4 linked regions of the Homo sapiens genome follow. The protein of the gene in region 2 interacts with the protein of the main gene of each other region in a pairwise test. Each region holds a gene or a part of one and is shown on either strand. Other genes may lie near its edges.

Region 1 (3,500 bases), on a different chromosome or scaffold from region 2:
GCTGATTTCCAAGCTACTAGAATGTAAGTGATCTTCACTTATCTGGGAAATTGTCCCTCTGGACTGAACTAAAGCTCACTCTGATAGTTTCTTTCCATCACTGAAAGTACAAATATAGTCTGGAAATAACTTTACTGAGAATTTTATTTTCTTCTGTTGGCCATTGACATCACATTCATTCATTCACTCACTTAGCAAATATTTATTAAGTGCATACTGTGTGCCAGGCAGTGTTCCAGGCTCTGAGGATACAGCAGTGAACAAAGTCATGGCCCTCTGGGATCACTTATTCTGAAGGATGGGGGTAGGAATATATATAATATGTATAGATAATATAATATATAATATGTATAGATAGTGTAATATGTAATATGTGAGATGGTGATAAGTACTAACAAGAAAGTAAAGTAGAGAAGAAATCTAAGAAATGCTGGGCATTTGGGGGTGAGGGGTTGTATTTTCTTTTTAAAGGATGGCCAGGGAAGACCTCACTGAGAAGGTGGCATTCATATAAAGACCCAAAGGAAGTCAGGAATAGGAGGAAGAGAGAAGTACAGCCTATTTATCTTCTTTCTTTAATACAGTAAGTTAGCTACTTGTGTTGCCCAAGCTACCAAAATTGGATTAATTTCTAAAGAACCCTCAACAGATAATTAAATATCAACCATTTTATGAGGCATGTAAGTGTAGGTGGCAGGGGCTAGGAGAGGGGGGAGACAGGAAAATATAGTAGTGGTGTCCTGCTATTTAAAAAACAAACCCTTTTCAGAGAGTCCCTTATTCTCATTATCCTTAAGAGAGGAGGTTGGATTGTTTTCCCTACCAGCCTGCCTCCTGCTGTATCTTACAATGAAATCTTCAGCCACAACTGCGTTTGCTGTCTCTTCCTATGAAATAACTCTCAGAATGCTTAATTTGACTTCCTATAGGTTGAGTAGAAATGGGCTGAGAGGCAGGGAGCCTTAACATAATATGGGGAGACAAAGAGGACTATAAAACAAGAAGGTAAATGGTGTGAGCTCAAGTGTCTTGGGTATTGCTAGGTTCTTTCCAGTTTGAACATCCCTTATTACTGGTTTCCTGAAGTCTTCTTATGTCCCTGCTCTGCCTGTAGTTTGCTGAGAATGAGGCTTCTGCATTGTTGGATCCCAATTTTACCTAAGCATGGAGCTTTGACTTTTCTAACTAATTCTTTAATTTTTTGATACTTGGCCATTAGACTCTGACATATTACCTTATAGAATGAATTCAGCAAATAAATTATAATTCATGATATTAATTTTCATTCTCCACCCTCAGCATCTGTGAGCGGGTAACTCCCCGGCTATCCCATGCCAACTCAGCAGTGGTGCTTTCAGCGGTAAAAGTCCTAATGAAGTTTCTAGAATTGTTACCTAAGGATTCTGACTACTACAATATGCTGCTGAAGAAGTTAGCCCCTCCACTTGTCACTTTGCTGTCTGGGGAGCCAGAAGTGCAGTATGTCGCCCTGAGGAACATCAACTTAATTGTCCAGAAAAGGTTGGGAAATAGCGAAGTGTTGATTAAAGTGTTTGTAATTTTGCATTAAGCTTAATAATGTCAATGTTAATTAGGCTAGTGTTAATCTCTTTTTAATATATGGAAATGAAAATGTTATATGGCAGAAAAACTTGCTTGCCTAGCACCAGGAGGCTAACAGTTGATATTACAGTGTTTCTATAATAAATGCCATGCGTTGCTCCACAATCCAGTTTGTTTTCTGAAGGGTCTCTTTCTGATATACTGTCTAGTGCCTGGTTGATATGGTTCAGGCTGTAGTTTAGAGCCAGATTGTTGTTCTAGCAGTTCTTCATGGCAACATGTGCCCTGATGCTTAAAAAGGATAAAAATAATCTGCCAAGTGGAACTGATAAGAATAGAGGCGTATAGAGGAAGTTTATGCTTTTTTTTTTTTTTTTTTTTTTTTGCCTGAGTGGAGCGAGAGGAGAGCAGAGAGGCACAGATTAGGTATTAATACAGTCTCAGAAGGGTATATCAGTATATGCCTTCACCTTCCTTTCTTCTGTTTCTGTGTACCCTAGGCCTGAAATCTTGAAGCAGGAAATCAAAGTCTTCTTTGTGAAGTACAATGATCCCATCTATGTTAAACTAGAGAAGTTGGACATCATGATTCGTTTGGCATCTCAAGCCAACATTGCTCAGGTCAGACTTTATGCAGACTCAAGTTGATGATGATTTAGCTCTTAAGGTCTGGCCTTTAAAGAAGCTAGGCTGTGAGATTGCTATTTGAGAATCCTTAATGATTAACCACTTCCTGGGTTTAACAGGTTCTGGCAGAACTGAAAGAATATGCTACAGAGGTGGATGTTGACTTTGTTCGAAAAGCTGTGCGGGCCATTGGACGGTGTGCCATCAAGGTGGAGGCAAGTGTCTGATGGTAGTTAGGATCATGTATTGGGGATTCTGAGAGTTCTCTTCACTTTTTTCTTTAAAATAATTTTTAAGTTTATCAAAATAATAAAGCACACAGTTTCAATGTTAAAGAATTTTTAATGGAAAGCAGCTGTCTCTGGTTCCTCCCTTCCCTACCTAGACTTTCTTCTCAGAGGGAATATTTTTAACTCTGATTTTGCTTTTAGTTATTCTTTTGATTAAAATAGGTCCTCCATATCCATGAGTTCCACATCCGTGGATTCAGCTAACTGCGGATCAAAAATATTCAGGGGAAAAGAAAAAGGATGGTTTTGTCTGTACTGAACATGTACAGACCTTTTTTTGTCTATATTCCTTAAAAATATAACAATTATTTACATAGTATTTACATTGCATTAGGTATTATAAATAATCTAGAGATGGTTTAAAGTATACAAGAGAATGTGTATAAATGCAAATACTATACCATTTTATGTAAGGCACTTAAGCATCCATGGATTTTGGTATCCACAGGGGCCCAGGAACCAATCTCCCATGGATTTGGAGACATGACTGGGCTGCCATATCTCTAAATAATATTCTTGGCTGGGTGCAGTGGCTCACACCTGTAATCCCAGCACTTTGGGAGGCCAAGGTGAGAGGACTGCTTGAGCCCAGCAGTTTGAGACCACCCTAGGCAACATAGTAAGGCTCTGTTTCTACAAAAACTTTTTTAAGTTAGCTGGGTGTGGTGGCACACACCTGTAGTCCCAGCTACTTGGAAGGCTGAGGCAGGAAGATTGCTTGAGTCTGGGAGGCTGAGACTGTAGTAAGCTGTTATTGTGCCACTGCACTCCAACCTGAAACCTTTTCACTCTGGGTGACAGAGCAAGACGCTGTCTCAAAAAAAGAACAACAATAATATTCTTATGCTATTATTTATTAATTTACCTATCATAGACTTTTTCTGTTAACTATCTGCTATAAGAAGTTTACTTCATACACCCACCATTCCCACTTCCGTCTCCTGTTTTCCAGTGTAGTTACATAATGAAGGTTTTTGTTCCTATATCCATTATCATGGTAGATTGAAATAATATGCCTTT
Region 2 (3,765 bases):
AGTTCCATTAGTCAAGACAAGGTTGCCATAGAATGTCTTTAATAAAATAAAACAAAAGCCTTTTGCGTTATTTTGCACCGAGGATTGTGTTAAAAACAAAGTTGCATTATGGTTTCCAGATTGGCATCCTTGTTTTTTTCTATCATTTTAGGCCCCTTTCAGGCTGTTATCAGCATAGCATATCCAGGATTGCTTTGGCCTTGCTCAGTGGGTATGTGCGTTCTTTGAAGTTCTTACCTGACAGATGTGGGCAGCTGGCTTTACACAAGGAAGAGTTGTTTAAAGAGCTTTGGTATGGAAACAAAGTTACTAAACTTGACAGTCACTTGAGGATTATTTAAAAAACAAACAAAATAACTGAATGTGGTAAAATACTATCTCTAGAATATTTTTCAAACTGTTAAATGCATCCTTTTAACAGAAGCTGTTGATGTCTACAAACACTGTCTTTGTAGACAAAGACAAACCCCCCTTGCATGGGGGTTTGGGGGTTGGGAAGCAGTTGAGAAAATGGCATAGTCCCGTGAGAAAACCTTGGAATACTTTCTTTTAATAACATTTTTTTATTGCATAGAACTGTAAAGCTACAGAAATGCTTTCTTGGAGTTTTCCTTCATCCTTTCAGAAGGGCTAATATTGACCTTTGGTTAGCATGTTAGTATTTTCACCTGTGTCAAGTGATGTCTTCACGCTTTTGGGGGGTGTGTGTGTGCATGCCCACCTCGTGTTGTGTAGGGCACATTGGCCGATACCTATAATGTGTTTCAATTACTACATTGTTGGCATTTCAGTAGGCTCCTTCAGCCTTTGCCCATCTGGGAAGTGGAGACTAGGGCAATAAATGTTTTAGGGGTAGATTGAGACTGCAGTGTTTTTCATCTTTTAGCTTGTACTTTAAGACAATGGGATGTACCCCTAGACCATTTACCTAGATTTAAATTACTTCCTTGTGATGTGGTTTAGAGCTCTAAGTTCCTTGAGTTGTCTTGAAAGGCTGAAGGGTGCTCAGAGAATGGAGGGGAATTGAAAATGGAACCTAAGGATCTGGGAGTGGTCATATGTGTGAGTGGTGAAATGTGCCCCCCAACACCCCGTTGGGTCGGGTCTGGAGTTAAAAGCAGTGGCTGACATACATTTTGCAATATAAGGGTAAAGAAAGGTAAAGAAGGAACAAACATTTCTAGAGGATAAATGCTTTAATTCCAGAAGATAGGCCACACAGTTTAGGAACTGTGGTAAGAGGTGCTTTGCCATATTTATGTTACTGTTTAATCTGTGTAACAATCGTATGAGATGACTTAGTCAGTGGCTAGGTAACTTTCTGCTGGATGAGGCTGCACTAGTAAATGGTGGCACAGGCAAAGCCTTGTACTTTCCCTCATACCAGTATCAGCTCATTAGAGTTAACTCATAAAGGGGTTTGTTCTTGAGAGAGGGAGGCAGAGAATTTAAAACCATTAATGAAGTATTAATAGCTGTCAGGACAATTTCTTAAGAACATCAATTCATTAAGAGTTATTCTCTGAATTTTTTAGGAGGGATTTCTTGCCCTACTTTTGAAAAAGTTCAGACAGATGACTCCAAAGAATGTTTGATTTCTCTTGTGAATATTCACTTTTATATCAGATTCTGATGGTTTCTTGATTCTATATATTTAGAAAGCATTCGGCCGGGCATGGTGGCTCATGCCTGTAATCCCAGCACGTTGGGAGGCTGAGGCAGGCAGATCAACTGAGGTCAGGAGTTCGAGACCAGCCTGACCAACATGGAGAAACCCCATCTCTACTAAAAATACAAAATTAGCCGGGCATGGTAGCGCATGCCTGTAATCCCAGCTACTTGGGAGGCTGAGGCAGGAGAATCGCTTGAACCTGGAAGACGGAGGTTGCGGTGAGCCGAGATCCCGCCATCGCACTCCAGCCTGGGCAACAAGAGCAAAACTCTGTCTCAAAAAAAAAAAAAAACAAAACACATTAACTTGTGGGTAATTTGTCCTTCTGCTATCCAGTCTTTGGAAGGCAGGGCAAAGCTTGTGTGTGGTAGAGATTTCATAGGCTTGCAGGTTTGTAGAGTGGGAATTCAAGAAGTTGTAAAGGGCACTTATTAAGATAGGAATGTCTAAAATAAATGATCTTTAGCAGTGCCACCTTAAACTTTGTAAGTGTTGCTACAAAACCTTTAGTTCTGCATGCTCCTGACCAGCCATTGCCTTGGACAGAGAAACAAATAAGGGTGAGTTAATAAACTAGAGACTTGTCTCAATTGTTCAAAGAGGTAAACTTAAGGTGATTAAAAAGTGCTGTTTTATTCTGTATGAGATACACTTTGGGAAGTCGTCATTTTCCAAGACGATGATACGCCAGGCATACGAATTGGATCAGAAAGGATTTAGAGACATGCATGGATATAATGATCTCTTACAGATGTTCCTCACCTTACAGCGGAGTTACATCCTCAGAAACCCATTGTCAGTTGAAAATATTATAAGTTGAAAACATATTAGATACAGCTTAACCTACCCAACATCATAGCCTTGTCTACCTTAAACATACTCAGAACCCTTAAGTTAGCCTCCAGTTGCACAAAGTCATCTAGCACAAAGCCTATTGTATGATAAAGTATTGAATATCTCATGTACTGCATATTACTAGCCTGGGAAGAGATCAAAATTCAAAATATGTCAAAATTATGATGGCTTCACACCATTGTAAAATTGAAAAATCGCAAGTCAAACCAATCGGGGATTGTCTGTACATAAGAGATGATTGTCCAAATTAGAGCTGTTTTGGGTTTCTGCCCTTTGCAGATCCTTTGAGGTTTTCTTTATAGACAGATGACTCCTTCTGGGGGAATTGAGCGTGACTCTGATTGAGATTTGGTTCAGTTACCACATACTGAAAGCTTCCTGTGGGCCAGGCACTAGGTTGCACTGGGGACCTGGGAGGAAGGCCTAGCCCTTAAAGTTTCCAGCCTCTAGGTATTGGGAGACGAGGGAAAATGGGGACAAGATATTTATGGCCTGTCCTTATTGAGAGCTTAGAAAAAGCTGTGTTAATTCTGCTTTGGGTGTTCGATCTCACAGGGAAGATGGCATTTGAGATATGTGACTTGGCGAGCTTACACTGTGCGCTTGCCATTTTTCTAAGCGTTCATTTATTTAATTCTTAATGCAAGCCTAGGAAGTGGGTACAGTTATGATCCTGAAGTTATTAACCCAAGTTATGAACCTGACTGAGGGTTGGAGCTGGGATTTGAATCAAGATCTGTCTGATTGCAAAGGCTATGGCTTTTTTTTTTTTTGTCGTCATGCTGGCTGTGTTTCTTCCCTTAAAAGATAAGTGGGAGTGTGCCCTTGGCTTTCTTATTTATTATGTTAGGAAGATGAGAGGAGGAGTGAGACTAGAGAAAGAGGCTTGAAAGAGAAATGGGATAGAAAAATAAAGGAAAAGGCTGGGCACAGTGGCTCACACCTGTAATCCCAGCACTTTGGGAGTCTGAGGTGGGTGGATCACCTGAGGTCAGGAGTTCGAGACCAGCGTGACCAACATAGTGAAACCCCATCTCTACTAAAAATACAAAAGTTAGCCGGGCGTGGTGGTGCATGCCTGTAATCCAGGTACTGGGGAGGCTGAGGCAGGAGAACCGCTTCAGCTGGGGAGGTGGAGGTTGCAGTGAGCCGAGATCGTGCCATTGTACTCCAGCCTGGGCAACAAGAGCAAAACTCCGTCTCAAAAAAAAAAAAGAGAGAAAAAGAAAGAAAAAGTG
Region 3 (3,049 bases), on a different chromosome or scaffold from region 2:
ATATTTTTTTCTCTTCTAAATTTCAAACAAGGTAAGCTGTATAGCAGTAGCAGATTTCCTTTTATATTCAACCTCTGAACCATGGTAAGTGTGTGACTTATTATTTTTTCTATACTCTTTAAAAACATTGTTGTATCTTGCAGGTAGTATGACATAGGAGAAAAAACTTGAGTCAGACCACACTAATAGAATTTCCAAAGTCAGTTTCAGTGTTATTAAATATTACCTGGTCTCAGGTATTGCTAGGGACAATCAGTAGCCTCAATGAGTTCCTGCTGCATGGCAGGTGTGAACCAGCTCTTCTTTTGGCCCTGGTAATCTGGGGTTCCCAGCTGGAAGCAATTTTCCTGACACTCAGTCTCAGCACTGAGAGCTGTTCTTAGGGCCCCTGAATGTCAGCTTGTTCTGGGAGATGATGTCTCCCACAGCTGAAAGTGAATTTCACCTGCCTGTCTTCTAGATCATGCATAAGTTTGGTGAAAGCAAATGATGCAGTAATAGACAGACTAAAATGTAACTTTATTTATACATATTTAATTAGAATAGACATAAACCAAAAAGAAGAAAAAAATCAGGATAAAGTGTCAACTATCATTTTGTTTGCAAGGAGGAGTCAGGAAAAGGAACAAGTTATCAGAAAAATATTCTAAGACCATCCCAAAGTAGCTAGGTTACATAATCTTAAGAGTCAAATGCCAAAATTAAGTATTATACCACTTAATCCACAAATGAACAAAAGGGGAGTCAAAAGTTTATCCTGTTTAGTGTAATAACTTTTACATCACATATAGTGATTCACTTCTTAAAAGTGGCACTGGCAACTTTTAGAAGAAAGAAGTTTCCATTATGTGTTGACTAAAAAATCTCAAAAACAACTAAGCAGCTATGCTATAGCTCAGTAAGTACCATTAAACTGTTCTGGGCTAGTGTACATTTCAGGTTAATAGAGAACTACATTTTGGGTTTTTAGAAAGGCAGCAATAATTATATTTTGGCTTTTAGTCTAGATGCTTAACATAGTTAAGGCGACAGTTCAAGCATATTAAGTGAAGGTAGTTAAAATTTAAGAATCATCACAATCTCTTGAAACCTACATACACTGTTTAATGCTTACATGGAATGAAACCAGTGTTCTTAATTGGCATTTTACACACACACACACAGAATTTAAAAAAAAAATCAAAGGCAATCATTCTAAATGTACTATGATAGCATGTTAAAGATGCAAGTATGCTATAGAACTAAAGTAATATGAACAGCACTACTCATTACCTAGGAGAAAGGTGACTGGTTTTCACACAAAGCTAAGCCTGTAACAGTCATCCTAATCACAATGGCTTATAAAAGCATCAGGTTTCCAGTAGAGAAACTATTCTAGGAAAGTCAGTAAATCTCTTGAAAGTTTCACATCTGTAAAACCAGGATAAGGCTACAACTATTTTGAAATCTGAACAAGGTATCAGATGAAAGAGTAAGATTCCCAGCCATAATGTAAGATAGAAAGGTCCTCATGCAGCATATGCTCGCTGGCTCCGGGAAGGCTTCACGTGCATAATACAGAAGTTGCCAAAGAAGGAAACTGGAGACGTTCAGCTACATTTCCATGGTGCCGTGAATTTTAAACCTCAGGAATGGTGTGGTCCATTAGGCTTTTCATAATGCTTGGTGCCATCCTACAAGAGAGGTACTTTTATTATATACCGAGATTCTGGTTTTTGTTTTTCAAAATGCTACATTAATCCAAGAAAATTCCCAATTCCAATTTAGCACCTGTTAGCATCAAATATGAATGGAGAGAAGGGAAAGATCTTTTAAATGAGTCCAGAAGCATCTCTGGTAATCTAGTTGTTGACAGACACTCAGTGGGAAAGACTATCTGTATTTGGCTAGAGAAGTTAGGATACAAATGAATTCCTGTGCATTAAACATGGTGATTTTTAAAAAACAGAAAGAAAATGACAAGGCTGTGATGAGTTGGGGTAGAGGGATCCATCAGTGATTTAAGAAAAGAGAACCCTAGAAAAATTAGTCATGACAATAACTCCTTTTTACCCCCTCCAAGGGTAGCTAGGTGCATTCTATCCAGAAGCCAACACAAAAATTTCATTACAATGGTTATGTTTATGAATCTTTTAAATCTCATTTTCACATGCATAATAGAGCTTCTGAAAGGATTCCAAGCTGGCTTGACAAAAACAGCTATGGTAGATGCTAGGATATGAAAAGCTCTATAGAAGGAACCTTGTTGCCTCTTTTCAGTTCTGATCACTTGGCTTTCTAATCCTCAGTTCCTGAGCACAGATAGCACCAACACACCACACTTGTCTATCTGCCTCTTGAGATTCTGGAGAGAAGGGAAACTTACTCTTAGCATTCCACCAGCAAGAATTCTCCATTACGAACCACCACAACTATATTTATACTGAGCAGAGGGGTGGTAGGCAGTGCAACTGCAGTCAATTGCACTGCAAATTGAAAGCTGAAAGCATGCCCACTTCTCCTTGCATACCTTTTTTCTACCAGGCATTATAAAAACTGAGGAAAGTATATGTGAATTTTATTCCGTACTTGGGAAGTTGTAAGAGCTCATCCTTACCAACCCTCTGATTTAAATAACTTACTTCAAATTTCTAGATAAAACACCAGTATCCATTCCTTGGGTAAAAGAACCAAAGGGCTGAGAATTAAAGTATAGTGCTTATATTAAGTCACATGACCATATGCATTAAGTTGAGGAATTGTTTACTTACCGCTTAATAATATGTTCAAAGATAAAAGCAGGCATGATTGTAATAGTAACTACAGTCCCAGATGTTGACAGTATGTCTGCAATTTGAGAGTCCTGATAAAAACACATATTAAAAATTAATTCCACAGAGGCTTTATTTAATAAATACAAAACTATGCCAGTCTTGGTAAAGAAATACAAAATATATGTCTTGGTATTTCTAATTTTTTCTAGTATTTCTTACCAAGTTTAATTGTACACTATTTTACAGCTAGTAACCAAATTGCTTAAGTAAACTGAGTTGAATATTTTAACCAAAAA
Region 4 (4,088 bases), on a different chromosome or scaffold from region 2:
GGACTCGCCAGCATACCTGTCATCATACCACATCACTGCTGTCTCCAACAACTGGCCCCTCTGGGGGGGCAGCTCCAGCTCTGCCCACATCGCCTTTCCCGGATACAGAAACGATCTAACAAGCCAAGCCACGTCCACTTTCTATACTGATTCAGTAGTTAACCTCTGGATTCATCCCTGAAGCACTGAACTACCTGTGTGGCTGAGATACTCAGTCTGCTTGCTGGTTCCCTTGGCAAGGAAGGTGTCTCACTTGAAGTCTCCTTGAAAACCCTACTTGACAAAAAGGCAAGCTTGGGCAGCCCATTCGACCACCCAAGCTCCTACCCCCAAACATTAGACGCATTTTCCACGTGCTGCTGGGCACGTGCACATCAACATTCGTTTCCCTCCCAAAACGCGTCAATTCCAGGAGGCTCAGATAGGATCAGCTTTCACCTCCAAAAACGTGAGAAAACGCCTTCCTAAACCATTAGGCACTTCCCGAAGCCAGTGTGGGAACAAAAGGTGGGTCTGGGACCCGCAGCCCCCAAGAGAGCTCGAAGGTCCCAGAGAGAACACTGCCGGCTCCACCCTTCGAGGCCCAGTGTTTTGGGTCAGAAGCCCAAGTGCGAGCCTAACATCCGACTGAGTCACCCACTTTCATGACTCAGGCCTTGTGGCCCACTCGGCCGGGTGCTCGTCGGTCAAGAGGAAATCGGCCGAATGCCCGGGCCCGCGGAGGAGCGAGGTCGCCGAGCGCCCCTGGCGCCCTGCGCGGACCCTCGCAGAGCCCCATTTGCCAACGCCCGACGGACGCCGACCCCACGGCCGCGCCGAGGGTCCAGGATCGGCGGCTCCGAACCCGGGAGGACAGCGGGCCGGGGAGAGGCGGGCAGGGCGGCCGGTCCGCGCCCCTCGGGCCCTCGGGGCCGCGCTGACTCAGCGCCGGGCGGAGGCTGCGGGCTGACCAAGGCCGAGCCGTCGGGTGGGGACGCGTTACCTAGGAGACGCTCGAAGGTGCCGCTGCCTCGCCCCATGGCGACCTCCAGCCCAAACCCGACGCCGCGGGCGCTCCCCTGCTACGAGCTGGCGCGCCCCCCGACTTCCGCTTCCGCCTTTTCCCTCCAGTGCGCGCACGCGCACGTCACCGCGCCGGCCCTAGAGCCGCGAGGAGGCGGGGTCTTCCGCTCTCCCGCTAACGCTGCGCGCTAATTGGACGCGCCCTTGGAACAATGAGCCCTAAGAACCAATGAGAAGTCCGAAGGTGAGAACTATCCAATGAGAGTGGCCGGTGGGCGGGCCTTGAGCCGCGGCGCCGAGCTACGGGTGCCGGGTGGAGCGAAGCACGGAATGTGTCTCCTGCTGGGGGCCACGGGCGTCGGGAAGACGCTGCTGGTGAAACGGCTGCAGGATATCCTTCCGCGCGGGGACGGGACCGGGGCGCGGGGGGCACCCGGAGTGGGGCGGGGACTCACCCTTTAGCTGCTCGGGTCCTTGACCGCTTCGCACAGGTGAGCTCCCGGGATGGGAAAGGCGACCTGGGGGAGCCGCCCCCGACACGGCCCACGGTAGGTGTCCGCCCCCGCGGGTGGAGTTGCGGGGGGTCAGTTCTGCGCTTGGCGAAGAGCTCCGGGCTCCTCTAAGTGCACGCCGAGGCGCAGCGGGTCAGGTCGTGACTTAAGGCCAGCCTTCGGGAGCGGGGGACGGCCCGAGCTGAGGATAATTGGCGCGGGATGAGGGGGCCTGCCGCCCTCCACGGGCACTTCCTCTCCCCTCGCAACGGCTTCCTGTGGCTGGTCGCCCCCACAGCGAGTCCAGCTACTGATGGGCGTCGGTCCCTGCTCGCCGTTCCTGCGTTAGGGAGAATGGGTCTGCGGGGTTCAGGCCACCGTGTAAGGTGTGGGCACGGTGCTCTTCAGGAGTTCACAACGGGACAGCGGTTGTATTGTTCTTTTTGCATCGTGGTTTTTCCTATAGGTGGGCACCAATCTTACTGACATCGTGGCACAGAGAAAGATCACCATCCGGGAGCTTGGGGGGTGCATGGGCCCCATCTGGTCCAGTTACTATGGAAACTGCCGTTCTCTCCTGGTGGGTTGTAATCCTATATGGGCTTCCTTTAGGGAAGTGTGTCTACATTTCTGTGACGTCCAGTCCCCAACCTTGCTGTGTGTAGAAAGGGGTTTGGGTTATTTAGTGACTATACTACTCATGGAAATAGGTCTTAGCTAGTGTTGCTTCCTGCTGGGCACCCTGTCTGGTTTCTGGTGCTTGCGCTCCCAGGCCCCCGGTAGGAGCTCACAGAGGGCTTGCTGAGGGCAGGGCTGCTGCTCCGCAGAGAACAGACTTGGCCCTCTGTGTCACTCCCCGGTACGTCTGTGTTTATGTTGGACTTATACGTACCTCTGGTTGGTCTCATCTTGATAAGGCCTGTGCCGCGGATACCAGTATGGAGAACTGATGGCCACATGAGGACAGAGACGAGTGACACCAGGTCGTCTTCATAAAACTCGATTCCCTCTGCTTCTGCTTGTTCCCAAAGCTTTGTTTAAAGCTACTTTGGGCCGGGCGCGGTGGCTTACTCCTGTAATCCCAGCACTTTGGGAAGCTGAGGTGGGCGAATCACGAGGTCAGGAGATGGAGACCATCCTGACTAACATGGTGAAACCCCGTCTCTACTAAAAGTACAAAAAATTAGCCAGGCGTGGTGGCGGGTGTCTGTAGTCCCAGTTACTTGGGAGGCTGAGGCAGGAGAATCACTTGAACCCTGAACCCTGGAGGCGGAGTTTCAGTGAGCCGAGATCGTGCCACTGCACTCGGAGCGAGACTTCGTCTCAAAAAATAAATTAATTAATTAAAAAATGCAGTTTTGCTCTCCCAGTGCCAGGTCTGTGAGGCCCAGGGGAGGAAGTTTGGCAGCGGGGCATTGCTGCTGTCTTTTTCTTTTTCCCCAGTTTGTGATGGACGCCTCTGACCCCACCCAGCTCTCTGCATCCTGTGTGCAGCTCTTAGGTCTCCTTTCTGCAGAACAACTTGCAGAAGCATCGGTGCTGATACTCTTCAATAAAATGTACGCGTCCCTGAGCTGAGAGGGAGCACAGCGGGGGCGGGGGCTCCCTCGGGTTACAGCCGGAAGCATGGCTCGGTAGGGAGGTGGTGCAGCTGGGGGTCCGGGGCAGGTGTGTGGCTGCCACTGCTCTGATGGGGCACCTCTTTCTCTCCAGCGACCTACCCTGTTACATGTCCACGGAGGAGATGAAGTCATTAATCAGGCTTCCAGACATCATTGCTTGTGCCAAGCAGAACATCACCACGGCAGAAATCAGCGCCCGTGAAGGCACTGGCTTAGCAGGGGTGCTGGCCTGGCTCCAGGCCACCCACAGAGCCAACGATTGACTGCACGGCAGAGGCGCAGCTGGCCTGAGCTGGGGAGAGGTGGCAGAGGGCAGTATGGCTTTGCTGCCAATAGTTTCTTCTCACAGGGGCAGAATAACCCAAAGTAACCCTACATGATGGGGCTCTGTGCTGAGATGCAATGATGTGTAAACTGAGGCATGTGGAGATGGAAGTTGACATCTGGCCTCTGAAAAAAGTGTCCCCAGGGGCTAGGCATGGTGGCTCACACCTGTAATCCCAGCACTTTGAGAGGCCGAGGCGGGTGTATCACCTGAGGTCGGGAGTTCGAGACTAGCCTGACCAACATGGAGAAACCCTGTCTCTACTAAAAATACAAAATTAGCTGGGTGTGCTGGTGCATGCCTGTAATCTCAGCTACTTGGGAGGCTGAGACAGGAGAATCCCTTGAACCTGGGAGGTGGAGGTTGCAGTGAGTCGAGATCATGCCATTGCACTGCACCTGGGCAACAAGAGTGAAACTCCGTCTTAAAAAATATAAGAAATAAAAAAATAAAAACCTGTCCCCAGACTGGATGAGCAGGGCCTGCAGATGGCCGAGTGTTCTGTATCTTAGAGTGGTGCTATTGGGGTTGGCTCACCTCCTTCCTGGAGACCTGCTGGACTGCCCCCAAGGCGTATGGACTGCACAGTGCCACTGAAACCTGGCCTCTTGCTGTAGCACAACCTCCAACCTGCTGAGCCGCTGGTAC

What was found. The genes of interacting proteins can lie anywhere in the genome.
Region 1: the proteins of VAPB (region 2) and AP2B1 interact in binary tests that used the Homo sapiens proteins (3 or more experiments, as listed by UniProt).
Region 3: the proteins of VAPB (region 2) and SDCBP interact in binary tests that used the Homo sapiens proteins (3 or more experiments, as listed by UniProt).
Region 4: the proteins of VAPB (region 2) and ARL16 interact in binary tests that used the Homo sapiens proteins (3 or more experiments, as listed by UniProt).

What each region holds. Positions count from the first base shown.
Region 1 is NC_000017.11:35,625,322-35,628,821, forward strand, and holds part of AP2B1 (AP-2 complex subunit beta), read left to right. Parts: intron 1-1,299; coding exon 1,300-1,521; intron 1,522-2,063; coding exon 2,064-2,184; intron 2,185-2,309; coding exon 2,310-2,405; intron 2,406-3,500. UniProt on the Homo sapiens protein: Component of the adaptor protein complex 2 (AP-2). Adaptor protein complexes function in protein transport via transport vesicles in different membrane traffic pathways.
Region 2 is NC_000020.11:58,395,571-58,399,335, forward strand, and holds part of VAPB (vesicle-associated membrane protein-associated protein B/C), read left to right. Parts: intron 1-3,765. UniProt on the Homo sapiens protein: Endoplasmic reticulum (ER)-anchored protein that mediates the formation of contact sites between the ER and endosomes via interaction with FFAT motif-containing proteins such as STARD3 or WDR44.
Region 3 is NC_000008.11:58,580,310-58,583,358, reverse strand, and holds the end of SDCBP (syntenin-1), read right to left. Parts: intron 2,843-3,049; coding exon 2,751-2,842; intron 1,674-2,750; coding exon 1,619-1,673; 3' UTR 501-1,618; downstream 1-500. UniProt on the Homo sapiens protein: Multifunctional adapter protein involved in diverse array of functions including trafficking of transmembrane proteins, neuro and immunomodulation, exosome biogenesis, and tumorigenesis.
Region 4 is NC_000017.11:81,680,998-81,685,085, reverse strand, and holds ARL16 (ADP-ribosylation factor-like protein 16), read left to right. Parts: upstream 1-1,288; 5' UTR 1,289-1,332; coding exon 1,333-1,393; exon of another isoform or gene 1,394-1,491; coding exon 1,492-1,550; intron 1,551-1,959; coding exon 1,960-2,073; intron 2,074-2,410; exon of another isoform or gene 2,411-2,843; coding exon of another isoform or gene 2,844-2,936; coding exon 2,937-3,052; intron 3,053-3,206; coding exon 3,207-3,378; 3' UTR 3,379-3,899; downstream 3,900-4,088. Other genes in the region: HGS (hepatocyte growth factor-regulated tyrosine kinase substrate), read right to left, coding at 983-1,019. UniProt on the Homo sapiens protein: May suppress the RNA sensing activity of RIGI in a GTP-dependent.